Linked DNA regions of Homo sapiens. The protein of the gene in region 3 interacts with the protein of the main gene of each other region in a pairwise test. Each region holds a gene or a part of one and is shown on either strand. Other genes may lie near its edges. The genes, in order: TXNDC9, ZBTB24, CEP76 and FAM90A1.

Evidence for each region.
Region 1: the proteins of CEP76 (region 3) and TXNDC9 interact in binary tests that used the Homo sapiens proteins (3 or more experiments, as listed by UniProt).
Region 2: the proteins of CEP76 (region 3) and ZBTB24 interact in binary tests that used the Homo sapiens proteins (3 or more experiments, as listed by UniProt).
Region 4: the proteins of CEP76 (region 3) and FAM90A1 interact in binary tests that used the Homo sapiens proteins (3 or more experiments, as listed by UniProt).

The regions. Positions count from the first base shown.
Region 1 is NC_000002.12:99,332,385-99,341,489, reverse strand, and holds the start of TXNDC9 (thioredoxin domain-containing protein 9), read left to right. Parts: upstream 1-5,156; 5' UTR 5,157-5,251; intron 5,252-8,247; 5' UTR 8,248-8,279; coding exon 8,280-8,468; intron 8,469-9,105. Other genes in the region: EIF5B (eukaryotic translation initiation factor 5B), read right to left, coding at 3,901-3,935. UniProt on the Homo sapiens protein: Significantly diminishes the chaperonin TCP1 complex ATPase activity, thus negatively impacts protein folding, including that of actin or tubulin.
Region 2 is NC_000006.12:109,472,184-109,480,614, forward strand, and holds part of ZBTB24 (zinc finger and BTB domain-containing protein 24), read right to left. Parts: intron 4,748-8,431; coding exon 4,580-4,747; intron 4,076-4,579; coding exon 3,992-4,075; intron 3,300-3,991; coding exon 3,216-3,299; intron 1-3,215. UniProt on the Homo sapiens protein: May be involved in BMP2-induced transcription.
Region 3 is NC_000018.10:12,691,293-12,699,723, reverse strand, and holds part of CEP76 (centrosomal protein of 76 kDa), read left to right. Parts: intron 1-520; coding exon 521-745; intron 746-2,315; coding exon 2,316-2,501; intron 2,502-4,372; coding exon 4,373-4,470; intron 4,471-8,236; coding exon 8,237-8,365; intron 8,366-8,431. UniProt on the Homo sapiens protein: Centrosomal protein involved in regulation of centriole duplication. Required to limit centriole duplication to once per cell cycle by preventing centriole reduplication.
Region 4 is NC_000012.12:8,219,329-8,224,618, forward strand, and holds the end of FAM90A1 (protein FAM90A1), read right to left. Parts: intron 4,888-5,290; coding exon 4,688-4,887; intron 4,230-4,687; coding exon 4,121-4,229; intron 3,457-4,120; coding exon 2,494-3,456; 3' UTR 1,932-2,493; downstream 1-1,931.

The DNA.
Region 1 (9,105 bases), on a different chromosome or scaffold from region 3:
AACAAATGAGCAAGTAACATTAAAAGTAGCTGAATGAGTTCCCCACAGGGACAGCATGGAAGGCTAGAGAGGTTACTATCAACAAAAATCTATAATCTGTTTTCTTATTAATTTATAGCAAACTAGGACTTCTTCCCCTACCACTTCCTAAAGCGTCAGGATAGGAACAGGCTAGACCAAAAGAATTCTGATTATGCATCTTTTTTTGATGTAATTTATGCAGACAAGAGTTTCATTCAAATATATGCAAGTAAGAAATGAATTCCTTTATTAAACCTAGGCTATGTGTATTATATTTGTTTGATATGTGGATATTGAATCCTAGCCTTTGTCTCAACAAGTTTCCCGAGTCAACTGAAAAAGGTCAGGAAAACTTGCTGAACAAACACCACATCAAAATCTCATTCTTAGAATTACACAAACTGGGGCTGAGCGTGGTGAATCACACCTGTAATTCCAGGCCTTTGGGAGGCCAGGGTGGGAGGATCACTTGAGTTCAGGAGTTTGAAACCAGGCAGCCAACATGGTGAAACCCTGTCCCTACTAAAAACACAAAAATTAGCCAGGTGTTGGGCGCCTGTCATCCCAGCTACTTGAGAGGCTGAGGCAGGAGAATCGCTTGAGCCCAGGAGGCGGAGGTTGCAGTGAGTGGAGATCGCGCCACTGTACTCCACCCGGGGTGACAGAGCAAGACTCCATCTCAAAAAAAAAAAAGAAGATTTTTCACAAACTGGAACAGAATTCTAGAACTTGGTCTTTAAGCAAAATTCTAGAATTCTAAAAATACACAGACAAGAATAAATATCTTGATCACTGACACATGCTGTACAAATAAAATTAGGTAAGTTAAAATCTAATTTTAAATGAATACTGAGTGGCTAAGAAGTTAAAATAAGGATTAATTAAATATAAGAATTAAGGACAGTGAGTATTGTATGTTCTGTCCAAGAACTGAAAAGTGGCTCCATGCCTTCTCTTGATAACTAAATAAGCAGTTGTCATTTCTCACACAGTTCACACCTTGCCAGAAACATGCCTGACATAGCCAAGGAGGGGAGGTGGAATGACAGTAAAATCTTTAAAGTGTGGACCTTCACCCAGGAGAATAAAACCGGATCTCTATCTCATTTTACACAAACAAGAATACTAATCCTAAAATTGGACTTTCTCCCTCTAGATTTTCTTTCCAGTCTGTGTTTTTGTCCCATTTACAAATATTCAAAATATCCCTGAAGAAAGGAAAGAAATATTAAAATAAAGGTAAAAAGCTGACTCACAAAGCAGTGGAACTTCCCATTCCCCATCTCCCAATATCTCATGTGGAAGACCAAAATAAAAACCCAAGCAGTTCCAGTCAAAGGGAACTCTGCTAAAGCTCAGGATTTCTTAAACACAATCTGAAAGCCATTCATAAAAAGGAGTCCATGAGGCATTTATACACACACACACTCACAAAATGTATCAATTTCATATATTGGTATATGAGAAAATAAATGTTTTAAAATTATATTGCCACCACTTTCCCTTCAACATGAGCCAAAAACAAACAAACCAAAACAACAACAACAACAACAACAAAACACAGATTAGGTTGAGAGGGGGAAAAAACAGCATTTCTTCTACACAACCAAACCAATCATTTAACAACAGGGTCTAGTGTGCAATTTAAACTTTACAGCATCCCTGAAAATCTTTATAAATCAATGAGACACTCACTTTTCCCTAAAAAGACACAGACAAGAATAAACATCTTGTCTCCCAATGGCTTTTTTCTATTGTGAAAGAGCCTGGAAAGTAAAAAGTGTAAGTAGGGAAACATATAAGCCGGATCGCGCCTGTAGTCCTAGCTACTAGGGAGGCTGAGGTGGGAGGATCACTGGCCAGGAGTTCAAGACCTGACTGGGCAACATAGTGAGACTGCCCCTCCATCTCCAAAAAACAAAACAAAACAAAAACACATATATATGTAATTTTAATCTAAAGAACACATTTGTGTAATCCTAAACCAAACGAACGAATTGAAAAAAAAACTGTAATAAGACAATCAGGGAAATCAGCAAACTGACTGAATATTTGCTAATGTTTAAGAATCACTATTAATATTTCTTACAGATATACTTGGTGGATTTACAGATGAAAAGCTAATGAGATTTGCTTTAAAATATCTAGTAGGTGGGGGCCAGGGGCGATGGATCACGCCTGTAATCCCAGCACTTTGGGAGGCCGAGGCGGGCGGATCACCTGAGGTCGGGAGTTCGAGACCAGCCTGACCAACATGGAGTAACCCCGTCTCTACTAAAAATACACAACTAGCCGGATGTGGTGGTGCATGCCTGTAATCCTAGCTACTCGGAGGCTGAGGCAGGAGAATCGCTTGAACCAGGGAGGTGGAGGTTGCAGTGAGCCGAGATCGCGCCATTGCCCTAAGTTTCTTGTTGTCTGGGCAACAAGAGGGAAACTCCGTCTCAAAAAAAAAAAAAAAATGTATATATATATTTGTGTATATATTTGTATATATATATATTTATATATATGTGTGTATATATATTTGTATATATATATATATACACACACTTCTAGTAGGTGGGATGAAACCAAGCAGGTCATGTGCTAACAATGGTTGAAGGCAGGTAATTAATACATAAAGGCTCATTATACTCAGTTCTCTATTTTCTAGAGACAGCTGAACATTAGCAAGGAAAAAAGTACCCTATACATCAAAAATTCCTGTCAAAAGTACAGAAATTTGTGTTCCCCTACATCACCCATAATCCTTATTTTCTCATTCATCTGGTTTAACAATAATTCAATTCTCCAAACCAATTAACTTCCTCCAATAGACCTAAAACTGAAATACAAGACTATCTTTGTTGTCTTTTAATTCTACTCATAAGCTAGTCAAACGCTAGGTGAGAAAACGATCCAGGCTTCCAATTTATAATTAGTAAACTTATTTTAACTTCAAGACAACATATCTGTTTTGAGTCAGACTGATGAACTAGCACTAGTTTTTTTAATTTACCTTACTCTCCGCCTCGTATTTAAGTTTGGTGGGTAGTGTACGAACGTGTAATGTAACAGATGTTGTTCACTCCCAGGAAGTCAACTCTTTCCATCATGAGTAACAGAACTCAATCGAATGTGACACACAGAAATGTCTCAAAAATCTCTAGGTAAGTAACTCGCATATACCCTTATCCTCCCTCCCCAAAGCATTGCAGGTGGTTAGAAAGGAGCGACCTCGGTTGGTTGGTTTCTTCTTCTTCCCTTCCTTTCTTAGGGGAAGGCTAGAGAGCAAAGAAACGACAAAAAAAAACAGGCCGGAAGAAGGAAAGCGAAAAGCATGAGGGCTGGACAATCAGCCCTTAAATAAACGAAAACTGTATCCAAATCAGATTAAGTTGAGAGACAGCGAACTGCTAAACACCTCCCCATAACTCTAACGTACCTGAAACCGCGAGTAGAGAAACCCGGCCGTACATCACATTCAAGCTCCCTTCCCTCCCAAAGTACTCACAGGTATAAGAGGCATAAAAAGAACTTCCCCACCCTCGCCAAGAGTAGCGCGGAAAAAAACTCACACTGGCCTGGGCCACGCTGGCGAAGCCGCCTGACCCTCCCCGCGCGACCAGGAACCCTCAAATGACTACCCCGCTCCTCAGGCCGGGGAAGGGGTGCCGGGGGAGCGAGGCTCGACTGGGAGGACCCGCCCGCCGTCGAGGCCCTACGTGCCCACCCGGCCCGGGGGCTTGGGCCCGCTCCGCACACTCTGGGCCCAGGCCTGGTACCCCGCGAAGCTCATCGCGAGCCCAGACCCCGGTCCGACGCCGCGCCCGGCGAGACCCGCACACTCCACTGAGCCACGGCGGCCGCCGCCGTACGGACCCAACCCCTATCTACCTGTCTTCGCTCTTGTTTTTCTGTTTCTTCCCCATTGCTTGTCAATGGCGCTCGTGGCCCCAGCCCCTCTATTCGGTCTCTCACAGACCCACTGTCTCCCGGCTGACTTTGGTCTCCGCTCAGCTCTTTTCCCCTCGTGCTGCCGCCGCTCGCACCCGGCTCTCCACAGACCCGCGCACTGGAACAGGACACATATGGTGTGAGTTCTCAGTGCGCAAGCGCATCGCCCAGCCGCCTCGGCGTGAGGACGCAGGGCGCGGCTCATCGAGAGCTGCGCTTCGGGTAGAGCGTCTCCGGTTGACCGGCCGACCAGGCAGCAGCCCGAGCGCCCCCTGCCCTCAAGCGTCCGCCACGAGCCGACACCCGCGGGTTTTCCACGTTCTAGAACCCGGAGGTGGACAATGAAGCTGTCAATTTCGCCACCTCACCCCTCTCCCAACGGGGAACGCACGCTTCGGTTCAGGAGTGGGCTTTGGGCTTCCCTTTATATCTTTGTATTCTCAGCCGCACGAAGTTCAGTAAAGAACCACAACGAACCAATAGAGTCCTCTGGGGGTTTGCGAGAGAGATAAATTCAGGACAAAATAGGGACCTCTCAGTAACATCCATGCATTATGCATTATGTACAGTCACTGAATAAAACAGAACAGGACACAGCCGATCAATTCCCTAACATAGGTCTTCAGCTTCACCCTCAAAGCGAGGGCGAGTTCTAAAAATTCCTGTGTTTCGAAGAGTCAAGAGGGGACCTACAGGGGTGGTGGAAAATGTTCTATATCTGGATCTGGCCGGTGATATTTTGGGTTTTAACTATGCAAAAGTTAATTGTGCTGTATATGTTTATGCCTCGACTTTAGGAAAAATGTTAACAAAAGAAAACAAAAAAAAGAAAAATGTTCATTCAACACTAACAGAATGGAAACGCAGTTCAAGCGTCACGGCTGAGCGAGAGCACAGCTGTCTCATTTCCAGTCTGGCGCACTGGACCGTGAATACTGAAGCACGCTCCTGAGAAAGTCCGGCCACGACAGCCTGCGCACTAAGAAACTGCAACTCCCACAATGCTTTGCGGCCTTCCAGTTCGGCCGTGTACCCGGAGGAAAGCAAGGGTCGGACACCTTGGGTTCCGGGCTGCTGGGCGGGAGGCGCACGCGCAGAACTGTTCGCCACCCGACCGCCCGCCCCTTCCTCTGGCGTCCAAGGTGATATCGCGCGAGGTTCGCAGCCAATAAGGAGGCGGATGTGACGGCCCGTTTGCAGCCGCCGGCAGCTACTGCAAGGCAAAAGCCGGAGTGGACGTGTCTTTTGAAACTGCTGCTCTTTCACTTCTCAGGCGTCACCGAGAGCTCAGGTGAGGCAGAGGGTAGTGAGAAGAATCCGACCACCACGTCCGGGTGCTGGTGAACATTCTGCTGCTCCACATCCGGAGCGGAGGAGGGGCGCGGCCCCAGCACCGGTGTCGGTGTCCTGGCAGAGGCTCTTGCGCAAGCGCACCAGGAGGCGTCGAAGTTGGGGCCACCGGGACTGTGCTTTCCTCTGTTTCCCCGGGCGCAGGGAGTGGCCGGCTTGCCATTGGGGAGGTACCTGGGGTTCAGTTAAGGACCAGGCCCCTTGATTGTTTTGGCGGATACCTGTAAGGGTGTCCAGGAAATGACTAGGGAATTTGAGGACGCGCTGTGTCCCGTCCCACCCTTCCAGCGGAGCTGTAAAAAGGAAGAATCAGAGGCTGTGGTTTGAAAAATGAAAAGCTAACGAGGGGTTGCATCGTCTCTTTACCCCATTCTCAATGCTCTGACCACCAACACCTACACCCAGAATAGCTCTTCTTAATCTCGTCTTTTTCCAGTTATCCCATAATTAAATTCTGGGCTCATTCTATAAAGTTCCAGGGTAGGCATTCTCTGTGCTTATCCCTGGAGCACAGCTTCCAACGTTCAATTCAGTATCTTATTATCTTCTCCTTCCAGCCCCCTCACTGAGGGTCACAGTCCTACTGACATTTTTCTTGGGCGATAGGGAGCGTGGAAATCTTTGCTGTGTTTGAAATACAGCACCTTTCCAATTTTATAGCACTCACGAGGAGCTTACAATTTGGTTTTTTAGACTCAAATACTTTTGAAACTTAACAGTGTAGTAATTTGAACAGAAGTCAGGCACGTGTTCATTCAACGTTAAATACATGTTTATTGAGTACCTGCTGTGTTCTATGGAGATACAAAGATGAAATCAAGTATGCTTTTCAAATCCTTTTCCTGTAAAGAAAAAGGAATCAGAATTGAAGTTTGCAAGAATATTTCTCTTCAGCTCAACGTTTATAGAGGGCCTGTGTGGGTCAGAATCTGTGTCAGAAGCTGAGTGAATGAATTCACAGTTTGTTGTGAAGTTTGGGGTGCTTCAGTATTATTTGCAAATGTATCATAGTTCATTGATATGCAACAGCCTCCTGCTTTGATAGGCAAATTATAAATCATTTCTGCAGTAATAACCCTGAGATACACATAAACTTGCCCTCTAATTGTTGGTATAAAATTTCTCGTACAAAATACTCCATTTCTTTTAAAAGAAGTAAAATTTTGGCCGGGCGCGGCTGGCTCACGCCTGTAATCTCAGCACTTTGGGAGGCCGAGGCGGGCGGATCACGAGGTCAGGAGATCGTAGCCATCCTGGCTAACACGGTGAAACCCCGTCTGTACTAAAAATACAAAAAGAAATTAGCCGGGCGTGGTGGCGGGCGCCTGTAGTCCCGGCTACTCGGGAGGCTGAGGCAGGAGAATGGCGTGAACCCAGGAGGCGGAGCTAGCAGTGAGCGGAGATGCGCCACTGCACTCCAGCCTGGGCGACAGAGCGAGACTCCGTCTCAAAAAAAAAAGTAAAATTTTGTACTAATTGCTAGTACAAAATACTCCATTTCTTTTAAAATATATAGTCATGTGCCACATAAGGACATTTCAGTTTTATGAGATTGTAATACTGTATTTATCGTACCTTTTCTATGTTTAGATACACAAATGCCATTATGTTACAGTTGTCTGCAGTATTCAGTACAGTAACATGCTGTACAGATTTGTAGCCTAGGAGTAATAGGCTGTATGGCATAGCCTAGGTGTGTAGCAGGCTGTACCATCTGGGTTTGTGTAAATAGTCTATAATGTTTGAAACAATATCAAAATCACCTAATGATGCATTTCTCAGAATGTATTCTCATTGTTTTGTGGGTTTTTGGTTTTTGGTTTTTGAGACAGGGTCTGGCTCTGTTGCCCAGGGTGGGGTGCAAGTGGTGCGTTCTCAGCCCACTGCAACCTCTGCCTCCTGGGCTCAAGGTATCCTCCTCCCACTTCAGCCTCCCTAGTAGCGGGGACTACAGGCACACACCACCGGGCCTGGCCAATTTTTCTATTTTTAGTAGAGACAGGGTTCCATCATGTTTCCCAGGCTGGTCTCAAACATCTGAACTCAAGTGATCTGCCCACCTTGGCCTCCCAAAGTGCTGGGATTACAGGCGTGAGCCATAGCACCCAGCCTAGAATATATTCCCATTGTTAAGTGATGCATGACTAATTGAGATAGGTCTTCCTTTCTAATCTGAATTAGTTCTATTTTGAAACTCTGATTTTACACAGAGGAGTGATGTTGGAAAAAAACCCAAAATTTAGAAAAGTATTTGGAGTGTTTTACATCAAAGTTAACACTGTCAGTAAATGGAAACCAGTATTAATTTTTGTGACCTCATAGACTTTTTTGTTAGGTAATGGGAGAACAGGAATGGACATTAATGCTCAGGGAACACCAGGCACTCTTCTTTACATAAATGGTAATGAGACGTCTTAGGAGTTAAATGAAACTCATTTGGGCAGCAGCCATGAAAAAAATCTGTGTTTTGCTCAACTGTACTCTGTGTTTAAGTAAAGTTTAATATATATATTTATGTGTAAAACCTCAGTAGGTATACCTTCCTATTGTTCGCAGTTGTTTCTGATTTCTCTTTCCCATTGGTAAAGAACACTGATTGTCAGTATATATCACTAGGTATAACTTCACAACTCATTTCTCTGTGGTTTGGTGATGGTCTTAAAGACTTGTCTTGGCTTTAGTATAGTAAAACATATGCTAAATCAGAAGCACCCTAAATTTGCTGTAAGTAGTTTTTGAGTGGTGTGACTAGAACCTACTGAGAATTAAATTTAAAAACACATAAAAATTGTTAAGCCCAGCATCAAGTGCTTGGATGTCGTTAGAATACTCCATAGAGTACACATTATACACTTGCCAGAATTTTTGAAAATGGTAGAGAAAACCTTGCTTATTGTTTGCATTTTTTAAAATGTATTTTGTAAATCTTCTCCCCAGCACCCAGGCTGAACTCTGTACCATTTGGAAGAATGGAAGCTGATGCATCTGTTGACATGTTTTCCAAAGTCCTGGAGCATCAGCTGCTTCAGACTACCAAACTGGTGGAAGAACATTTGGATTCTGAAATTCAAAAACTGGATCAGATGGATGAGGATGAATTGGAACGCCTTAAAGAAAAGAGACTCCAGGCACTAAGGAAAGCTCAACAGCAGAAACAAGTAACCTCTCTGCCCTGCTTTCTGAAATTGCTATAACAGTATGCGCCTAACAACTTATATATACATGTGCTGTAGTAGTTACATTTCGTTCTTTGTGTTTAGGGTTTTTAAAATTCAGAATACCTATTACTGTTAAAAATTTGCCCAGAAAAAAATATGTTTTAAAGACATTCAAAATTAGCCCAATCTCTATATTAATCCACAGTCGAGTAAAAGAAAGATCTGCCCAAGATCGTTTTTCTGAGCTTGGATTTGTTTGGTTGAATGGAGGGCTAGGGAGTCATTGGTTTCCATTTCAGGTAATATTAAAGCCGATTTAGCTATTTTCAAAGCAAACGAGATAAGACAGATGAGATAAGAGCAATTAAGTCAATTTATGTTGAAAAATGTATTTCAGGCATTTCCAATGAAATAATTATGTGGCATATTCAAAAGAATGCATGCTTTGTAACAAAGGTGGCCACAGCTCTATCGTTGTTGCCTCTTAGAATGTTTGTGTAGAATAAACGCAGAGTTGTAAACTCTGACTGAAACCAGTGGATTAAATTCTGTAAATTGAAATTTTTTTTTCTGCTTTTTGAGATGGAGTCTCGCTGTGACACCCTGGCTGGAGTACAGTGGTGTCATCTCAACTCAC
Region 2 (8,431 bases), on a different chromosome or scaffold from region 3:
CGCCAATGCCCTTCACCAACATTCAAGCAGATTCTCCATGCTGATGCTAGGGACAGATGGGTCATAGTTGCTGCTCTTGAAGAACCCCAATTTTTTGATAGGTTCAATTTCTTTTCATATTTCTAAGTCATGCAAACCACAGAGGCCCGTCTGTCTCCTTTTTAACTCATCACACATCTTCCACTTTCTGTTCTGCTTCTCAAAGTTGACAGGCTGAGAAGAGTTTGCTGGAATTATAGTGGGGGAGGTCTTCTGTTCCTTTTCATCCCCACTTCAAGTCCTACTGCTACTCACAAAGCCCAGAAACCTCACTCCCCCTTATGCTCAGGCAACAGAACCAAGGGGAAGTGCCTCTTCTGGCACTGCTCAGCATGACCAAGCCAGCTCCACGCTCCTCCACCACCGCTGTCTCCCTAGGGAACTCAGCACAGCGCCACCCACTATTTGCAGGCACATGTGCACCTGTGGAAATCCAGAGCTCTGGCTGCATCTCTCCCCCGAATTCTCCAGACCTGGAAATCTAATGATCTACCCCACACCTGCACATGGATGTCAAATAGACACCAACCAGTCCACAATCTAACTCCTGATCTGTTCTTCTTAGTCTTCCCTAGCTTTTCCTCCTCACAGTGGCTTTTGCCTCCTCTTTCAACTCCCACATCCAATCATGAGCGAATCACATGAATTCTTCCCTGGACTATCTCCAGAACTGGACCACCTGACACCACCTCTGCTGCTACTGTGCTGTTCCGAGCCCCACTACTGCACAGCCTCCTGATGGGTCTCTCTGCCTCCACCCTGGCCTCGCCCCCACCTCACAGGGTGGCTAGAGTGACCCTATTACAACCCTAAGTCATGCCATGTCACTCATCTCAGTAAAGCCATCTCCCTCAGAATAAAATCCAATCTTTACTGTGGCCTTCAAAGTACTTCAGCCCGAGTGCACCCTACAACTGTTGAGGGGTACTTTAAAAAACACCAATTCCCAGGCTCTGCCCAGGTGAAGTCAATCAGAATCTTGGCAGCTGGGACAAGGCTTTTTTTTAAAGCTTCCCAGGTGGTAAAAAGCATGCAGCTAAATTGAGAACATCCACCTACACTATGACTTCCTACTCCCAGCTCTCTGGCTGCCTTGATGCTCCTCCCAGCACGTCTCCAGCTTGTCAAAAACATTTATTCCTGCCTGAGGGCCCTGTGCCCAGGGCTCCCCCTGCCTAGAATGCTCTCTCCTGGACATCTTCAATGGCCGGCTGGCTCACTCCCCCACTGCATTCTCATCTCCATCCAAGATGCCACCTCATCTGTGAGACCTTCCCAAACCAGTCCATGCATAAAAGAGCAACTCTCTTTCCGGCATCCCGCCCCCTTACCTTGCATTTTATTCTTCAACGCACTCACAACACCAAATGTGTTATATACTTGTCTGTACTCTGTCTTCCCTATTGAATGTTGGCCCCTTAAGGCAGGGGCCTGTCCATCTCATTCACTGCTGTATCCTCAAAGCCTAAAACAATGTCTGGTTCCCAGTAAGTGCTCAGTACATGTGTTAAAATCCATATCCTATGAGATGTTTACTGAATTTAAGAAGAAAAACTTGTATTTAAAAAACAACATCCAGGCCAGGCACAGTGGCTCACGCCTGTAATCCCAGCGCTTTGGGAGGCTGGGAGGGTGGATCACTTGAGCCAGGAGTTTGAGCGAGACCAGCCTGGCTAACATGCCAAAACCCTGTCTCTACAAAAAAAAAACACAAAAATTAGCCAGGCGTGGTGGTGCGCACCTGTAGTTCCAGCTACTCGGGAGGATGAAGCAGGAGAATTGCTTGAACCCAGCAGGCAGAGGTTACAGTGAGCCAAGATAGCACCACTGCACAACAGCCTGGGCGACAGAGACAGTGACTCCAAAAAAAAAAAAAAAAAAAGTCCAAAGCACCATAAATCAATTTGCTATTTAGATAATTCCAGTAGACAACAGAATTATTAAATAACCTGTAATGGCAAGTTTTTCTTAGAAAACTGAATAGGCTTATTTTTAACATACATTCTTTGACAAAAGGTATAAAAGATCCAATTTTCCGATCTTACATAAAAAAACTGACCTGCCCTAATCAATGCTGCCTCCTCGTCATCTCTGAAACTGATTTTTCTGGAGGTGGTGCTGCTTAAGTTTAAGTGTTGGTTCTAGGGGAGAAAGTGGAAACATTCTCAGTGTCTATGCTACATTTGTGTCTGTTACATTTGGCTGTCTTTTCTAAAAAAATAATCTTGGGCCAGGCACAGTGGCTCACGCCTGTAATCCCAGCACTTTGGGAGGCCAAGGTGGGCAGATCACAAGGTCAAGAGATCGAGACCATCCTGGCCAACATGGTAAAACCCCATCTCTACTAAAAATACAAAAAAAATTAGCTGGGCATGGTAGCGCACACCTATAGTCCCAGCTACTAGGGAGGCTGAGGCAGGAGAATCACTTGAACCCGGGAGGCAGAGGTTGCAGTGAGCCAAGATCGTGCCACTGCACTGCAGCCTGGCAACAGAGCGAGACTCCGTCTCAAAAAAAAAAAAAAAAATTTATCTTGCTGGGTATGGTGGCTCATGCCTGTCATCTCAGCATTTTGGGAGGCTCAGACAGGAAGACTGCTTGAGCCCAGGAGTTCAAGACCAGCCTGGGCAACATAGTGGGACCCATCTCTACAAAAATTAAAAAATAAAAAATTAGGTAGTGTGGTGGTTTGCACCTGTGGTCCCAGCTACCCAGGAGGCTGAGGTGGGACGATCACCTCAGCCCAGGAGGTCAAGGCTGTGGTGAGCTGTGATCGTGCCACTACACTCTAGCCTGGATGACAGCACAAGCCCTTATCTTTAAAAAAAAAAAAAAAAAAAAGTCTTGATATCACCTTCAATGCTGAAGTAAATTAAGAGTGAAACATAGAACCAGACTCAGACTCACTATTCTGTGGTATTAAATGAATTGTGACATACGAATAGTCCTCAGTAAGTGATCTCCATTTTGCTCATCTACAAGAGATGTGATTTCCCCAAAGACAGTGCTGACAACATTCTGCCTTCCAACTTTTAACTTATCTTCTTACACAACTCCCATCCAATTTATAATAAACATTTCCAAACACAGGCTTAGCAGGGCACTCAGAGAACTTCATTCTTCACTCTCCTGAAAACATCCCGTGTACTGGGGGGACAGACGAGATGGAGTTTTACCTGTGTGTGTTCGCAGATGTTTCTTTAGCTGAGACACATCCATGAATTTGCGATGGCAGTCTTTGCATTCCGGTAATGAGTGGCCTTGTCGCAACAATAAAAAAAGTGTCAGTGCATACATGCTCTCCCTGCCTTTTCTTCAGTGATTTGTGTTAAAGCACTTCCCTGAAAAATAATCACTTTAAATATAGTACTTTAACCACAAAAATTTTTTCATTAATTTGGTAACTGTTAATATTTTCCTAAGCACCTCAACTCACTGCCTCCTCCAAGAGAGCTAGGATCCTTCCAATTCTAAATGTAGTCTCTCCTTTTTTCCTCAAAGTATTGGTGTGACTGAGGCCACAAATGACCTCAAATGACACTCGTAACCCACATTCATTTCTTATCAGTTGGCAGGAAAGAAAAAGGACAACAGGTAGAACCAGGGGAGAGAAAGCCTGGGCTGACAGCCATGGGATGATGATGTCTCTGCCCAGGCACCACTAACAACCATTCACTGAAGCTCCCCTGTGCAAGTGGCACTTTTGAAAGATGCCAATTCTGTAGGGTTTCTGTGTGTGGCACCAAAACTGTAGTATACAAATAAAACATAATTCACATGGTGGCGGACAATAACATAAAAACATGTAATTTAGACTCTTAAGGCACTTTTCCCTAAATACCCTATGTGAACGATATGTGCTAAGAGCAGAACAATATAAACCTAATGTTTCAGAAACAATTCTTATTTGCATTTCTTCCCCCCCAATCTAAATGTTCTCACTTTATCGTACCTGTATGAACTCGGTAATGGCTCTTTAGCTGTCTGTTCTGGCTGAAATATTTTCCGCATTGATCACAGGTAAAAGACTTCTGTCCTGCCAAAAAAACCAAAACACTAAAACATGTAAAAAATTATAAAGAACTGGAATGCTCACTAATAAGGTAAATACTACAGTGGGTCCAGGTCCCCATTTTCTACAAATGATACAAGCGACTTGTTTACATACCCAGAAGCCTTCAATCTACCACAGAAACATAAATGTGCAAAGGTATGTAAGGCAATCGGGAGTACTGGAGACTGGGGTAGAACTGGAGAATTTAAGTTTCCCCGAAAGGCGTTCAAAGTAAAACAATTCTAAACTTTGGTGGTTTAATAAAACATGCTTGCACACTAAACTCCCAGCAGCCAGTTTATAAGCTCTAGTTTAATGATCCGTGCAGAACTCTAAACTGCACTCAGACAGATGCAAAATCCTGTCTTTCAATGACACCACGTTGGAAATGATACTAGGCTGAGAAAACACCATTTAGGTGTTGGTAATGCCCACCCTGGGGAATGGGAATCTGGTGAAGCTGGCCCTCTGGGCAAGCCCCACTACCTGAGTGCAGGCTCATGTGCTCCAGCAGTGAGTGCTTGGTGGTCAGAGCCTTGCTGCACACGGTGCAGGTGTACGGCCGCTCGCCTGTGTGCATCCTGGTGTGGACCTGTAGCGAGTGCTTCTGGGCAAAGCCTTTTCCACACTCATTACATTTGAAAGGTCGCTCCCCTGGAAGAAGAGCCCCAGAAGCATGGTATAAGTAAGAATCCACACATTTTTCTGTCTCTCCCAAATTAAAAAAACAATAAAGGATTTTTCTTAAAAGGCACACATCCAAAAGGCCAACAATGAACACAAGAGACATCAGCAATAAAATTTTGGAAGCTGAACAGATGAATCTGAAGCCAGCAGTGAGTAGCACTAACATAACCTAATTTTTTGTTTTTCCTTTGTAACAGGGTCTCACTCTATCACCCAGGCTGGAGTGCAGTGGCGCTACCATAGCTGACTATAGCCTCAACCTCCTGGGAACAAATGATCTTCCCACTTCAGCCTCCTGAGTAGCTGGGATCACAGGCATGTGCCACCACTACACCCAGCTAATTTTTTAATTGTAATTTTAATTTTTTTTAGAGATGGGATCTCACTATGTTGCCCAGGCAGGTCTCCAACTCCTGGGCTCAAGCAATCTTCCTGCCTCGGCCTCCCAAATTGCTGGGAGTACAGGCATGAGCCACCACACCCAGCCCAATACAACCTAATTTTTAAGACACAATCTCCTAAGGCTCAGGAATTGGTGGCACCTGCTATCTCTGGAAACAGGGGTGAGGGAGGGTAAATGAAAGTCTGTTTCAAAGGTGCTTAGACCCCTGATCAAATCTTCCACTCTACACAGCCAGGAGACTGTCCCTCCCCCAAAAGAGAATGGAGAGTGTTCACTGAGGAGGGTTAAGAAAAAGGGGTCTTTGGATTAGGAGTTTCTAGGCACAGTTGAGTTGGGATCACCACAGGGAGAGTAAGTCAACATTTCCATCTGGGATGATGAGACTCCCCCACTCCTTCTTCCCCATCCTGTCCTAGACACAGGCCAGCAGCCAGGCCTAGTGCCTCCAAGTGGGAGAGCAGAAGCGTCTTCCAGTGGAACATGAGAGGTCCAAGGTGAGAGAGCAAAGATGTGGAAGCCAGGCACCAGTAAGGACATGGGGCACAGCCACACCACCTCCAGTGAGGTTATGACAGGCCTCCATACAACTGTTTCAGTACTGACTGAGTGGTTAAGTTAAACATTAAAAGCCAGTGCCCTTAAACAAAGGCTGGAATGTAACAAAAGCCCACCAAGAGTTTCCCCTAGGCTTCTCCTGGGCCTTAAAGCATGACAAAATAACGAAGGAATTCTTAACAGGGCCCACTTAGGATTAAACAAGTTTTACTGGGGATCTGAAGGAACTCCCCAAATCTCCGTGATTTAGCAGAAGATAAGGGTAATCACCCCAGCACCTAGACCCATTTAGATTAAGTAAACTTACTGAGGCTCCAGAAGAAGGTCTTTGGGACGCAGACCTTGGATATAGATTAAAAGAAGTTAATCACCTACGTCTTTAGAGGAATGCACACTTACAGACAGACATACAGCTTAGGCGGTATATAAGCTCTGAAAAATTCTGTAATTTTGAGTTGGTCTGGCGATAATTTCCAGGCCTTCTCCCTATAACTGGTTACAGAAATAAAAACTCTCTTCCTCTCCAATTCATCTGCATCTCATTATTGGGCCACGAGAAATAGCAGCCTGACTCTCAGTGTGATCTGGGAACAAGGTCACAGTTTTACAGACTCTCTCATACAAAAAAAATTAGCCAGGCATGGTGGTGCGTGCCTGTAATCCCAGCTACTTGGGTGGCTGAGGCAGGAGAATCACTTGAATCCAGGAGGCGGAGGTTGTGGTGATCGGAGATCACGCCATTGCACTCCAGCCTGGGCAACAGCCTAAGAAATAAATAAAATACAGGCTCTCTCCACACATGCAGCATTGCCAGTAGCTTTTAGCAACCCACCCTTACATATGATTTAAAAAAAAAACACCAGGCACTCAAGGAGAGCCTTTTGTAATAGTGACAGACAAACAAGCAAGAAGAAAAAAAAAAGCAACTTGCCTCCAGTGAGGAAAATGTTGTTATCATTAACATGCTCATAGAGGTAAGATAATACATTGTGAAATAAAAAGATCATTCAAATTAAAACATTTAGAAAAAAAAGAGCTCCTAAAGGGGGAAAAAAATAAGAGTTGAAACAGAAAACCTCAAAGGGCTGAAAAACAAAGTGGAAATCCCCCAGAGGGTGGGGCCAAAAATGATGGAAAATATAAGAGAAAATAAAGTTAGAGAGAACAGAGAAAACAGAGAGGAGAAATCATCTATGAAATAACTCAAGATTTTCCAGAACTGAAAGACAGTTTCCAAACCTTATGAATCTACCTGTTATCTACCCAGATGGAAGAAAACAGACCCATACTAAAGTGATGGGCTGCAAAATTCAGAATACAGATGCTTCCTGACTTATGATGGGACTACATCTAACAAACCCATCATACTGAAAATATCATAAGGAAAAATGCACTTATACAGAGTACTGTATGAATGCACCAAATGCAGAGTACTGGTCATTTACCCACGTGACTGTGTGGCCCGGCATGGCATGAGAGGATCATACTGAATATTACTAGACCGGGAAAAGATCAAAACTCAGAATTCAAAGTACAGTTTCTGTTGAACATGTACTGCTTTCACACTATTGTAAAGATGAATTGAACCATTGTGAGTCGGGGACTGTCTGTACTGAGGACATAAGGGAAGAACGATCCTACATGCTTTTTCTTAAGTCTTGTATAATGATTTAACTCTAAACTATGCACATAAAATTTTTGATAAAAATAGCCAGCTGGGCGCAGTGGCGCACGCCTGTAATCCCAGCACTTTGGGAGGCTGAGGCAGGCAGATCACGAGGTCAGGAGTTTGAGACCAGCCTGACCAACATGGTGAAACCCCGTCTCTACTAAAAATACAAAAAATTAGCTGGGCGTGGTGGCGTGTGCCTGTAATCCCAGCTACTCAGGAGGCTGAGGCAGGAGAATCACTTGAACTCGGGAGGCGGAGGTTGCGGTGAGCCGAGATCGCGCCACTGCACTCTAGCCTGGGTGACAGAGCGAGAATCCATCTCAAAAAAAAAAAAAAAAAAAAAAAAAAAGCTAAAATATAACCTATTACAGTTCAACAAATATTTCTCAAGTATCCACTTTGTTCGAAGTACCTGAATTCAAGCTCTTCAACCTATCTGTAGCTAAAGTCTTTAGGGAGCTTTTAAAAGCACCAAGGCTCCAGACAACTAAATCAGAAGCTCTGGGGTGGAGGTCTAGGCACTGGTAGTTTTAGAAGCTCCCTAAGTGATTCCAATTTGCAGGCTGAGAACCACAGCACCAGATACTGCTGGATCACAGGAGAAGACTTAAGCCCCAGTCCCTATACTTAAGATTACAATTAAGTTGAGGGATATACAAGTGGTAACAACAATCTGATCCAAAGCAGAGTGGGTTTTAAGCACCTGAAAGGGCTCAAAGGAGGAAGGGATTTCTCACTAGGACTGCAGTGTCCAATACGGTAGCCACTAGCCACATGTGGTTATTCAAATTTAAATGAATTAAAATAAAATTTAAAATTCAGTTTCTCAGTCACGCTAGCCACAGTTCAAGTGCTCAAAAACCACATGTGGTTACTGGCCACCATATTGGACATCAGAGATGTAGGAACATTTCCATCATCACAGAAGGGTCCCATTGGTCAGCGCTGGGCTAGAGGGACCAAAAATGAGAAGGTATTTAAAGCTAGATAGCTGAGTTACAAAGTGATCTACACAGACTTG
Region 3 (8,431 bases):
AAATACTTAAAATTTTATGGTTGGCTAAAACAGATTGTTTTGCATGAAGTATATCAGAAGAGTTAATGTATAGCACGGTAGAAGCAAAAACAGCATCACCAGTTTCTTGTGTTTTAATAATATGTTTTATAAAAACTGTACAGCCTTGCTTTTAAATATTAATATAATTGACAAATACACTTGCTGAATTGATAATTATATGAGTTGGTTTGTGAAGGTGGAGGAATGTTGGATAAGCAGTTAAAAAGCAAAAGTATACTACATATTGGCTCTGATGCCTTTTCCAGCTGGGAGAAAGTAGCCTGGATGTAAACTCAGAAAAGAATATCATATTTTGTGTATCTTCTCCCCAGAGTGCAAATGATTCTGGCATATACAGTAATAAATTTGTTACTCTTTTGCTTTTTTTTTAGTCTTTGGTATTGGGTTTTTATCTGTCAAGTTTTTATTTCCTAATGTCTTGATCACATTCTTTTAAGTTATTTGGCAGTTTCCTCATATATATTGCTACACTTTACAGCTAATATTGATCCAACACGGAGGTATCTTTACCTTCAGGTTTTGGGTGGAAAAGCTTTCTTGGAACATCTGCAAGAACCTGAGCCTTTACCTGGACAAGTTTGTTCAACGTTTACTTTATGTTTACATTATCGAAACCAACGTTTTCGTTCTAAACCTGTTCCATGTGCCTGTGAACCAGATTTTCATGATGGCTTTTTACTTGAAGTACACAGAGAAAGCTTGGGTAAGAAACAGTAATAAATTGTCATTTAATTGAGTAAATCTTTGTTATGTTTTATTGTGAAACAATAATAATGACTTTTTCTGTAAGGAGAGATTTATAATGGAGGAATCTCTATTTTGTTTCCCACTGCTCTTTTCAATTTAAACTACTATCCACCTTCTTGCAATATTCTGTTTGCTATTCATTTTCCCTGGATATTATTTTTTGACTGTTTTCATTGTTGATTCTTTAGTAATACACACTTAAATACCTATTATGTGCATAGTGTTATGCTAGGCAGGTGCTGGGATGATATAGTGGAAAATGAGACATGGTCCTTCTCATTTATAAAATATAACCAGATTGATGATGTTATGTAACTTTTAAAAGTCGAAGTTTAGGCTGAGCACGGTGACTCACAGCTGAAATCCCAACACTTTGGGAGGTCTAGGTGAGAGAATCATTTGAAGCCAGGAGTTCAAGACAAGTCTGGGCAAAGTGAGACATTGTCTCTACAAAAAATAAAAAATAGGCTGGGTGTGGTGGCTCATGCCTGTAATCCCAGCACTTTGGGAGGCCAAGGCAGGTGGGTCACCTGAGGTCAGGAGTTTGAGACCAGCCTAGCCAACATGTCGAAACCCTGTCTCTACTAGAAATACAAAATTTCTAGCCGGGCATGGTGGCAGGCGCGTGTAATGAGCCGAGATCACCCCATTGCACTCCAGCCTGGGCAACAGAGTGAGACTCTGTTTAAATAAATAAATAAATGAATAAATATTTATAAATTATTTATAAAAACTTCTAATAAATTTTTATAAATACTTACAAATAAATATAAATAAAATAAAAAGTCAAATTTAGATGTGAACATATAACTGTCATTTTAATTTTTTCTTTTTTTTCTTATTTCTCCAATAAAGCATGTAATTCTCATAACTAAATTTTATGCTACTTGATTCCTGTAATTGTTTTACACTATGTTTCTTTCAGTAAAGGTATTTTGTATTTTGTAATTGTCAGTATGGAAATCTTTATATTTGTAAACTAAGCAAAGTTTCAGAATGTCTTCACAATTTTAGATTTAAAGATGACTGAAACATTACTAAAATTTATTTTTTTCCCTTTGAAAGATGTTACCTTAATAAGGCAATTAATAGGATAAATTGCTAGATTCGATGTGCTGTATTTTTCAGTTGTATGTCAATTATACAGTGATAATTTCTGGAGGTTAAAGGGATTTCTTGAGGTAGTTTGGGGATTAATATTGACATACTTGAAGGCTTTTTATTGTAGTAGCATATACTTTAGTTAAGTACTTTTAAAGAACAGACTTATCTTATGAATCAGAAAGCACTGATATGCTGTAAGTTACTGGATAACTCATCACAATTTGCCAGTCTTCTGAAAAGTTAGTGATAGAAATAGGACTGTACTTGTATTTCCAGTTTTTTGCATGCTTTCTGAGACATTAGCAAATTGTTCTCTTTGGTTTTATATAAGCTTATTATTTACTGTTTAATAAAAGTATTCTTTTATGTTGGCCTAACTGAATATGTAGTGTGGTATAATTTCGTTTGGATTATATTGCTAGGTGATGGAACTAGAATGGCTGATTCAACAACAATGTTATCAATAAGTGATCCAATTCATATGGTGCTAATCAAAACAGACATATTTGGTGAGACGACTTTAGTAGCATCATATTTTCTGGAATGGCGATCGGTTTTGGGCTCAGAAAATGGAGTGACCAGTCTGACTGTGGAACTTATGGGTGTAGGTATGGTGATTAATATATCATTGTTAACCTTTTTATAGCCACAGTTCATTTGTAAATATATTTTATATCTTTAAAATGCTTTTATAATCCAAGAGGGAAACCTGTAAAATAGAATTTCGTTAGAGTTACAATTGGACCTCAGCATCCTAATCTTGAGAAATGTCTTGAAGAATAATATCAGTATAGCACTTCATGGTCAATCTGACCTTGTCTTAGGAGAAATGTTTTTTTCTGGAAAATGAATACAGGAATTTTGAGGGTTTTAATTTCAAGTTCATTTGATTAAATATAAGGCTATAAAGAAAATTAATATTCTTGACACACATACAAACTTATGTGTGTCCAGTCATCACACCCTGGAATACATCCCCTTTGGTACCAGTGATTCTTGCAAAATACAGAGTAGATGTTCTCCCAACCTTTTACAGTGTGGGTGAGTGAGACTCGGAAGAGGAAATAATTTGCTCAGTGTTAGTATCAACTAGTCCTTGAGGGCAGAGCTGGTGCCTATCTTATTTATCATAGTCTCCTTGGAATCTTGCACACTGCCCGCTATGTAACACATACTTGCTAATAAAATGAGAAAACAAAACCTACCAATGTTTTATCTATAACATATAATGGAATTACTTTGGTTTTTAAACTTAGTCACAGAGTTAAACCTTGCCAGTGGACAGCATAGCCTTAGTAATTTAGATTATTATTATTATTATTATTATTTGAGATGGAGTCTCGCTCTGTCACCAGGCTGGAGTGCAGTGCTGCAATCTCGGCTCACTGCAACCCCCGCCTCCTGGGTTCAAGCGATTATACTGGCTCAGCCTGCTAAGTAGCTGGGACTACAGGCATGCACCACCACACCCAGCTAATTTTTGTATTTTTAGTAGAGATGGGGTTTCACCATGTTGGCCGGGATGGTCTCGATCTCTTGACCTCGTGATCTGCCCGCCTCGGCCTCCCAAAGTGCTGGGATATTGGCGTGAGTCACCGCGCCCAGCCAGTAATTTAGATTTTAATAAGTCATACCAAGAATGTATTTTTCTTTAAATAAAAATTATAGAAAAAGTGTCCTTTATGTAAGAAATTTATTTTCAAAAACAATACCCAATTTGTCTTCAAAAATAGGCCTAACATGATAATCGTAGCAGTGACCTGGAAACAAGCAGATTCTGATTCACTGAAGAAACATTAAATCGTTTTGATGTGAAGTATATTTGTTTTCTAGTTCTTTAAATCCAGGCATGGATTGAAAATTTCTACTCAGCCTGTAATTGGATAATGGGGAGTGACAAATGGGAGTTACTATAAGTGACAATATAAATGCTTTCTAATTTTTAGTGTGTGTGTGTGTGTGTGTGTGTGTGTGTGTGGAGAAGGAATGAGGTGTTAACAGTTGCTTTGACTTTGAATTTAATGTAAGTCTGGTTGATATTATACATTTAATTAAGACAAAAATTAAGAGTCTCAAATCCTTTAAGTCAGAAAAGTTTCTTAAAACCTGTTAGAAAAGCCAGGTGTAGTGGCTCATGCCTGTAATCCCACCAAGCACTTTGGAAGGCTGAGGCAGGAATATCACTTGAGCCCTGGAGTTTAAGACCAACCTGAATAACATAGGGAGACCCCATCTCTACTTAAAGAAGAAAAAGAGTGTCAGAAAGCTAAGAAAATAATCTCCTTATAATTAAACACCTTTGTTTAAAAAAATTGATTTGGTTCATTTTAATATGAATATTAAAGGTAATGTTGAATGTTATCTTTATTCCATGTAAGTGATAAAACACCCAAGTGCCTAAATTATTTTGGTTAGACTTTGGTTGACTAAATATATATAGTATTGAAATCTCTGAAGTTCAAAATATTTATGTTTATAGGCACAGAATCAAAAGTTTCTGTGGGAATTTTAAATATAAAACTTGAAATGTATCCACCACTCAATCAAACGTTATCTCAAGAAGTAGTGAACACACAGGTAAATACTTATGAGTTTCTCTTTTTTTGTGTGTTTGTTTTCATAGTAGTATATTTACCTGTTGATCCTAGAAAGCACTCTATTTTTAGAAAATTACCATTTATTACTTTCTAGATTAGCACTCAAAGGTTCACAAAAAGGATGAGGAAGAAAATAAAGACAAGATTGTTTTCCTAGCAGAATCTGTAGTCTAGTTTAGGAAATACGATGAACATTTATTGAGACAGCATAAGAATTACAGGATAGGCCGGTGGCTCACGCCTGTAGTCCCAGCACTTTGGGAGGCCGAGGCGGGCGGATCACAAGGTCAGGAGATCGTGACCATCCTGGCTAACACGGTGAAACCCCGCCTCTACTAAAAATACAAAAAAAAAAAATAGCCGGGCGTGGTGGCAGGCACCTGTAGTACCAGCTACCCGGGAGGCTGAGGCAGGAGAATGGCGTGAACCGGTAAGAGGAGCTTGCAGTGAGCCCAGATCGCACCAGTGCACTCCAGCCTGGGCAACAGAGCAAGACTCCATCTCAAAAAAAGAAAAAAAAAAAAAGAATTACAGGATAAAGCTGAAGAAGATCAAAGAGTAAAGTGCAACCTCAGTGGGATGGGATTTTAACGTTCTTTCGCAGGCGTTTATTGAAAGCTTGCTGCTTATGTCTTTTCTGCTCTGTTCTCTCAGGGTAGAAGTGCTTGCCACTTTTAGAGTGTGTTTGGAGAGGCTTTTTTCCCTAATTCCACTGTCAGGTCTCTGATGAATTACTTTCTTCCTGGGTCTTAAAAGATCGGCAGATTTTTTCATTCCTTCACATTGGATTTGCCATCCATGTTTAGTTCTTGCCAGTCTTTAGTTTGGAGGTTCTCATTATCTGCTGACTTGCCGGGATGGCACTTGTGGAATGGTTCTCCTTGATTACATACACCACCCTTTACTCCACCCTGCCTGTCATATTGTTCCTTTTACAGACCTGTGGTTAGACGCTAGTGCTTCTCCCTCAGGCAAACAATGTCCTGCCCTGTTTTCTTTAAACTTTTTTTCCTTCCTTTTGTAAACTCTCATCTCCCTCTAATCTCTAGCTTCTGACATGTGTCATGGGTGGTATATATACCTGAAACCACATAGTGAGAACCAACTTTGATGTTACTCAAATAAATACCCAGCCCTGTGGGAGGCTAAGGTGGGTGGATCACTTTTGAGTCCAGCAGTTTAGGACCAGCTTGGGCAACATAGTGAGACCCTGTCTCTACAAAAATTTTAAAAAATTAGTCAAGCATGGTGGTACATACTTGTAGTCCCAGCTGCTTGGGAAGCTGAAATGGGAGGATTGCTTGACCCAGGAATTTGAGGTTACAGTGAGCTGTGATTGTACCACTGCACACTAGCCTGGGTTACAGACTAAGACCCTGTCTCTTAAATAAATGGTGTATACACACATATACATTATGTGTATACGTGAGGGGTTTTTTTGTTTGTTTTTTTCAGACAGAGTCTCGCTCTGTCGCCAGGTTGGAGTGCAGTGGCGCAATCTTGGCTCACTGCAACGTCTGCCTGCCGAGTTCAAGCAATTCTCCTGCCTCAGTCTCCTGAGTAGCTGGGACTACAGGTGGGTGCCACCACGCCCAGCTAATTTTTGTATTTTTAATAGAGACAGGGTTTCACCATGTTGGCCAGGATGGTCTCGATCTCTTGACCTCGTGATCTGCCTGCCTCGGCCTCCCAAAGTGGTATACATGAGTTTTAATCATGTTATTCATATATTTATGTGACATATAAAGTAAATGTTTGGGCTCTACTTTTTTGGGGTAGTAGCTTGTTTTTTTTAATTAAATTTTATTTTTTTAGAGACAGCATCTCACTCTCTCAGGCTTGAGTGCAGTGGTGTGATTATAGCTCACTGAAACCTCAGACTCCCAGCCTCAAGCAATCCACCTGCCTCAGCCTCCCAAAACATTGGGATTGCAGACATGGACCATTGTGCCCCACCAGGTTCTCCTTTTTAAACTTAACATTATTTTATATGTATTTTCTTATATTTCCACTGTCATATTTATAATTTCTAGTGACTAAAACATAAGTTTATTCTATTATCTGATAAATAAATTGCTTCTAATTTTCTCTTTAAAATTGCACTATTAAAACTTTTAGCCAGGCTAATTAATCTGTAATCCCAGCACTTTGGGAGGCCAAGGTAAGAGGATCACTTCAGGCCAGGAGTTCAAGACCAGCCTGGGCAACATAGGTAGACTTCATCTCTACAAAAATTTTTAAAAATTAACTGCACATGGTGGTGCATTCCTGTAGTCCCAGCTACTGGGGAGGCTGAGGTGGGAGGATCGCTTAAGCCCAGGAATTCGAGGCTACAGTGAGCCATGATCATGCAGTAGCACTCCAGACTGGGTGACAGAGCAAGACCCTGTCTCTTAAAAGAAATTAAAGTCAGAAATATGTATGGATCCTAAATAGATGTCAAAATGTGCTAGACACTGTTCTAGACACTGGAGATGTAGCTGTGTATAGGGCAGCAGACAGCTAGACAGCTTGCTCTCAAGGAGTTTAGATTCTAGTGCAGGAGAAACAATAAGTCAGCAAACAAAATAATCAGATAGTAGAAGGTGTTTTATGGAGAATTATTACAGGTGATATGATACAGTGGTTATTGGGTGGCTAATTATAGGTCGAGTGACTAAGGTAGGGAAAGAGTCTGAACAACAGGAAGTAACCAGCCATGCAAAGATTGGGGCTGAGCTTCCAGCACTGGGAACAGCCTAGAACAAAAGCCCCTATGGAGGACCGAAAGCCCTGTGTGGCTAGAGCGTAGTGGGTTGGGGAGAGAGGAGAAAATGAGATAGTCGGGCCAGAGTTCATAGGCCAGGGCAGGTATTTTGCAATGTGATGGAGAATGAAGTGTTTTAACAAGAGAATGACAGTATGTTTTTTTTTTTTTTGAGATAGAGTCTCACTCTATCGCCCAGGGTGGAGCACGGTGGCATGAACTCGGCTCACTGCAACCTCTGCCTCCCGGGTTCAAGCAATTCTCCTGCCTCAGCCTCCCGAGTAGCTGGGATTACAGGCATGTACCACCATCCCCAGCTAGTTTTTGTATTTTTAGTTGAGATGGGGTTTCACCATGTTGGCCAGGCTGGTCTCGAACCCCTGACCTCAAATGATCCACCTGCCTTGGCCTCCCAAAATGTTGTGATTACAGGCGTGAGCCACCATGCCCGGCTTGTATGATTTACTATTTAAAAATTTCTGGGCCAGGCGCGGTAATCCCAGCACTTTGGGAGGCCAAGGCGGGCGGATCATGAGCTCAGGAGTTCAAGACTAGCTTGACCAATGTGGTGAAACCCTGTCTCTACTAAAAATACAAAAAAAAATTTAGCTGAGTGTGGTGGCACGTGCCTGTAGTCCCAGCTACTCAGGAGGCTGAGGCAGGAGAATTGCTTGAACATGGGAGGCAGAGGTTGCAGTGAGCTGAGATCTTGCCACTGCACTCCAGCCTGGGCGACAGAGCAAGACTGCATCCTCCACAACCAAAAAAAAAAAAAAAATTCTGTCTTTGAGGAAAAAAAGGTGACTTATGATTATTGTATGGAGATGGGATTGTACTAGGGGTAAGTGTAGAAATAGGGAAGTCAGGAGGCTCTTATAGAAGATGATGATGACTCAGATTAGGGTGGTAATGATGTAGAGAAGTAGATAAATTTGCTACATATTTTGTAGTAATTAAAGATAATGAATAGAAATTGAAAAATATTTTTTTCAATTTCAAGCTTGCTTTGGAACGTCAGAAAACTGCAGAGAAAGAGCGATTATTTCTTGTATATGCTAAGCAGTGGTGGAGAGAATATTTGCAAATTCGACCCTCACACAACTCACGACTGGTTAAGATTTTTGCACAGGTTTGTAAATTATATTAGAATAATTTTATGCCTGTATTTGAGATTTACTGTTATGTGTGTAAATTT
Region 4 (5,290 bases), on a different chromosome or scaffold from region 3:
GCTTCATTAATTATTCATGATTCAGGTTGGAAGGCCTGCTGACGACCCCCTGTGGCCGTTCTCTGAGCTTTCCTGTCACATCGTTTCCTTCCACGCTCTTTGGTTCCTTGTGGTCCTGCTCCTTCTGCTGTCAGAGGAGCAGAGAGTTGATCTTATTGATTCTGGATACGGATACTTTCTAGGTGATCTGGATAATCAGGATAACGACCCTCAACAGCGGCGGAAAGGGAGCAGCCATTTGGTGTGTCTCAGAAAATCGCGCTCAGTTCCGAGGCCTCCTAGATGTGGAATCCTGCTCAGAGTTGTTCCCAGGTCAGAGAATGGAGAGAGCCTGGGCATGATGGGATATCCCTGCCTAGATCTTTCAGTGAGTCTCTACCTCAGCTACTCTTAGGATCAGGGGGAGAACCATGGAAAGGCCCGGTGTCAGACATCCGGAAAGAAGATGGGATGAATGTTTTACCTCTGAAGTACATCCCAAATCTGGGAGTTAACTTCAGCTTTGCTGGGCTCTATTTGGCCAGTGAAACTCTGCCTGGTTCATTCGCACATCCGGAAGCCACTTCACGGGGGGCCGTCGCAACTGGAACCACACACTTGGCATCGGCGGTTGAGCCAAATGGGGACTCGTGGTGCAAGCAACGCTCCCCACGTGTTAGCGTGCGTGAGATTCAGTTGGCGGAATTTTACTAGGTGTGTGTTGGTAGAGTGGGGCTGAGGTTTTCTTGCTCCTGTGGATGTATACGAAGTCAAAGGTCCTGCCCAGCCCTGCGGTCCCCTCAGTCAACTCTGTTTCAGAGACATAACGATTTGGATTGAGAACAAGTCAAGAAATTTTCAAGCCCTTGGATGTAGGGAAAAGAAAGAGAGATCAGACTGTCACTGTGTCTATGTAGAAAGGGAAGACATGAGACTCCATTTTGAAAAAGACCTGTACTTTAAACAATTGCTTTGCTGAGATGTTGTTCATTTGTAGCTTTGCCCCAGCCACTTTGCCCCAGCCGCTTTGACCCAACTTGGAGCTCACAAAAACCTGTGTTGTATAAAATCAAGGTTTAAGGGATCTAGGGCCGTGCAGGACGTGCCTTGTTAACCACATGTTTACAAGCAGTATACTTGGTAAAAGACATTGCCATTCTCTAGTCTCAATAAACCAGGGGCACAATGCACCGTGGAAAGCCGCAGGGACCTCTGCCCTTGAAAGCAGGGTATTGTCCAAGGTTTCTCCCCATGTGATAGTCTGAAATATGGCCTCATGGGATGAGAAAGACCTGACTGTCCCCCAGCCTGACACCCGTAAAGGGTCTGTGCTGAGGTGGATTAGTCAAAGAGGAAAGCCTCTTGCAGTTGAGATGGAGGAAGGCCACTGTCTCCTGCTCGCCCCTGGGAACTGAATGTCTCGGTGTAAAACCCGATCGTACATTTATTCAACTCTGAGCTAGGAGAAAAGCTGCCCTGTGGCGGGAGGCGAGACATGTTGGCAGTAGTGCTGCCTTGTTATTCTTTACTCCACTGAGATATTTGGGTGGAGAGAAACATAAATCTGGCCTACGTGCACGTCCAGGCATAGTACCTTCCCTTGAACTTAATTATGATATAGATTCTTTTGCTCACATGTTTTTTTTGTTGACCTTCTCCTTCTTATCACCCTGCTCTCCTACTACATTCCTTTTTGCTGAAGTAATGAAAATCATAATAAAAAAAACTGAGGGAACTCAGAGGCCGGTGCCGGTGCAGGTCCTTGGTGTGCTGAGTGCCGGTCCCCTGGACCCAGTGTTGTTTCCCTATACTTTGTCTCTGTGTCTTATTTCTTTTCTCCGTCTCTCATCCCACCCGACTAGAAACACCCACAGGTGTGGAGGGGCAGGCCACCCCTTCACTTGGAAAATCAGTTAAACACAAACACGGAATGAAAGTCAAAAGACAATATGTCATCTTTTTGAGAATTTTATTCACTTCAAAACAAATTCAACACACCTATTTACAAAGGGATTCCAGAGCCCACTTTTCGAGGCTGAGGAAAGACCCCGAGAGCGCTTTGCACAGCGCGCTTCCCAGCGTCCGAAACACTGCTCTCAGGGCGGGGCACAGCGGAAGGGCTGCACCTCTCAGGGTTCCCTAACTTTTCCCTTATTCAGTCGTCTAGAGAGCAAATACACAGTAATTCCCCCGTTTCCTATTGACGTCCCAGCGGAAGTCTGACTCCTGCGCGTCATGCAGTTTCTGAGGCAACGAATCACTGGCACGGAAGCTTTTCCTGGCGCGTTTCCAGAGAACCATGCGAACTACAATGTCCCTCACCAGAATTCAACGTGGCAGAGTCCCTGCATCTGCTCCCTGCCTGGCCTGGGCTCCCACATCCACAGAAGGGCCACAGCCGGGGAGCTTCGGAGTCACCGCACAGAGTCTGCTCTCTGCTCTGTGCTCCTCAGTCCCACAGTCCCCTCCAAGTCACGGGAGCTGGAGGCCAAGGAGCCCCTGCCACCTGCAGTCTCACTCCAGGTCAGAATCGCTGTCCTCTGAGGAGGAGGGAACCTGAAGGTCCTCATAGAGGACGCTTGGTGGGACACGAACACAGGGACCCTCAGACTTCTCTGAGACATGAGGGCTCTGAGCGAGGAAGGCTCCCGGCTTCTCAGGAGAGTGAAATGAGGGGGCCGTCAGCAGGCTGGAGCTCCAGCGTCCGTTTTCCAGTCTCCGAAAGAGCACTCTGAGAGGCTGGGCCCCATCATGGCTGGCCGCTGGGTGATGGGACATGGTGCAGGCCTGGGCAGTAGGCAGGCAAGGTCTGCTGTGCGGAGGCTGCCGGTCGCCGCTAAGCACCTGGGCGGGTGTCCTCGTGCCTGTCTGGGGTGACGTACGTGGTCCAAGTTCGGTTGCGGCTGGCGGAGGTTGGAGATTCTCCGGGGCCCCCAGCTCACCTCCCTGGATGGCGCTTTCGGGGATCTGGAAGGGACCCAGTCTCGGTTTCTTGGGGAAGTTCAGGCAAGCCTGAATCGGAGCCGGGGCAGATCTCTTGGCTCCTGGCCCGAAGCTGAGATTGGAGCCTAGGCCCAAGCTGTGTGTGGCGGCTGGTGGGCAGGGCTGTGAGGTCACCGCAGGACGTTTGTCTTGTGCCTGGGGGCTGACGGCCTGGAGCAGGCCGTGGGTTTTGGAGGCAGCCTGGGGAACTTCTCGACAGCCACCCGCAGGGCTGCTGTGTGTCGGCTTCACCACGAGGAGAGGCTCGGGGCCCTGGTGCCTGACTGCAGTCTGAGGGATGTCGGCCGCAGCCCCTGTCTGTCTTTCCTTTGGTCCAAGACTTGAGGAGGAGCTCAGACTGGCTTTTCTGAGGGGAGACAGTGAAGCTAAGACGGAGCCCCTGTCAGACATTTCGGTAGCTGAGCGATCAGAGAGGACAGGGTCCACACGCGGCCTCTTACTGGTTGTGTGGACCGGCATTGGCCCGCTTGCAACCTGAAAGAGAGGAAACAACACAGGTTAGAAGTTCCTCAGCATGGAGCCAACATGAAAATCAACCACATCCAAAGACAAGGTGCACACGCCATGAAATTCTTAGTACACTATCGACAGGCGGTCCTTGGAAGTAGGGACAGACCCTCCACCTGAGTGCTGATCAGGACAAGACACATGAAAGATGCGCTCTCGAGCTATGTGTAGCTGATCTAAGCACACCATTGTTCAAAAGATTGCGTCTTAGGCATTAGCTGGATCAAAGCGCCTCCACTCAGCCTTCCATGAAGTGGAACCGACTGATGCCCTTCCGAAGGCAGGTTGGTGGCTCAAGGGTACTCAGGACGTCTTCTCTGAACATATGCATGTTCCTGGGTTTAGCCTTCTCCACGTTTGGGGCCTCTGAGGGACTAATTTCCTCATGCCGCTAGGAACGTGTTGTTGGCAGGCTTGCCATAATTGGACAGAAAGAAAGCAACAGGAAATACGGCATCTTCAGATGCCTTCGCCTGGAATCAAATTGACCTGGAAGGATCGTGGAGTGTCTGACCCCAAGAAGGCAAGAAAGAGGGGTTCCCCGATTCCCTCCCGCAGACGGGAAGCTGAAAGGAAATCAACCAGGGTGACCTAGAGGAGAAAAAGACCAGGGGCCCAGGGTGACCCTCACCCTCAGATAATCAGAAGATTCCGTGGATCCTTTTTGATTTGGCAGCGGCTTCTCTGGAGGTTTCCTGGAAAATATGTGGAGGAGAGCCTTCCTCTGCGGGTCTTGTGGCCTGCAGAACAGAAAAAGGTCAGGCCGTCCTCCCTGGTTTTCCCCAGGAGACGGGGAGAACCCTGTCTGGGGCCCAGTCCCATTCCGTGTTTTGTGATACAGAAATGGACATCTGGTGCCCTTTCCGCCTCTGCACCTTCCCTCACGTGCCAACCTTCCCATCCTCCAGGTGGCCCTCTAGGCTTCCCAACTAAGGACTGTGATTTGGATTCCATCACTTTTCCCCCTGTCGTGGGGAACCTGCACGAAGCGCCCCCGCCCCTCCCCGTCCCTGAATCTCCCAGAGCCAAAGGAGCTCTTGGGTGTGGAACTCCGGAAGACACAGAGCTCCGGTCTGTTTCTCTGCAGCGTTCCTTCCCTGGCCCGGAGACGGAAAGGCACACGGTGTGCAGGTGCAGAGACACCATGTCCTTAGGAGGCAGTACCCTAAGAGTGGTGAAAACCACTCCCACTGCTCACCTTGGTCTCTCTTCCTTCTCTCCCTTATCCTTGTTCAAGGGCCCAGGGTTCGCTTCAACCTGGGGCTTCCATGGTTTCAGGTTTTCCTTCCCTTCCTTTTCCCCAAAGTTCGGTGGAACCAGGGCTGCCTTCCAGCACTTCATGGGGCACCTGGTACTTCTGGCCGTGTGGCCAAAGGCCTCACAGTTTTTGCACTTGAGCTGTGGGTGGAAAGGAAGTGATGTCAGTGAGTGAGCTGAAGCCACAGGCACCGATCCCACGTCAACATTGAGACGGATTGTGAATTCAGAGCTGAATAAGGATTCCAAAGAGGGGACACCGGCATGGGGGCCGTTAAGTGCTGGGAGAGTTCGGATACGATGTTCCCTCCCAAAGCCCATGTGACGGAGGAACTCTAAAAGGCAGGACTCAAGGTCCTAAGGGGCACGATGGTGAACCCGATGTCAACAACACAGCCAAACGTGGCTACACAGGACTCTAAGTAGAAAGGGAGGTTGCCCCCAAGAGTCTCTCAAGGGGCCTATCGGGCCGGGGAGGAGGTCCCAAGCCACGCCCACCTTGGATGGGAAAAGCAACCTGGGTGGTGGTGACAGAACTCTTTGG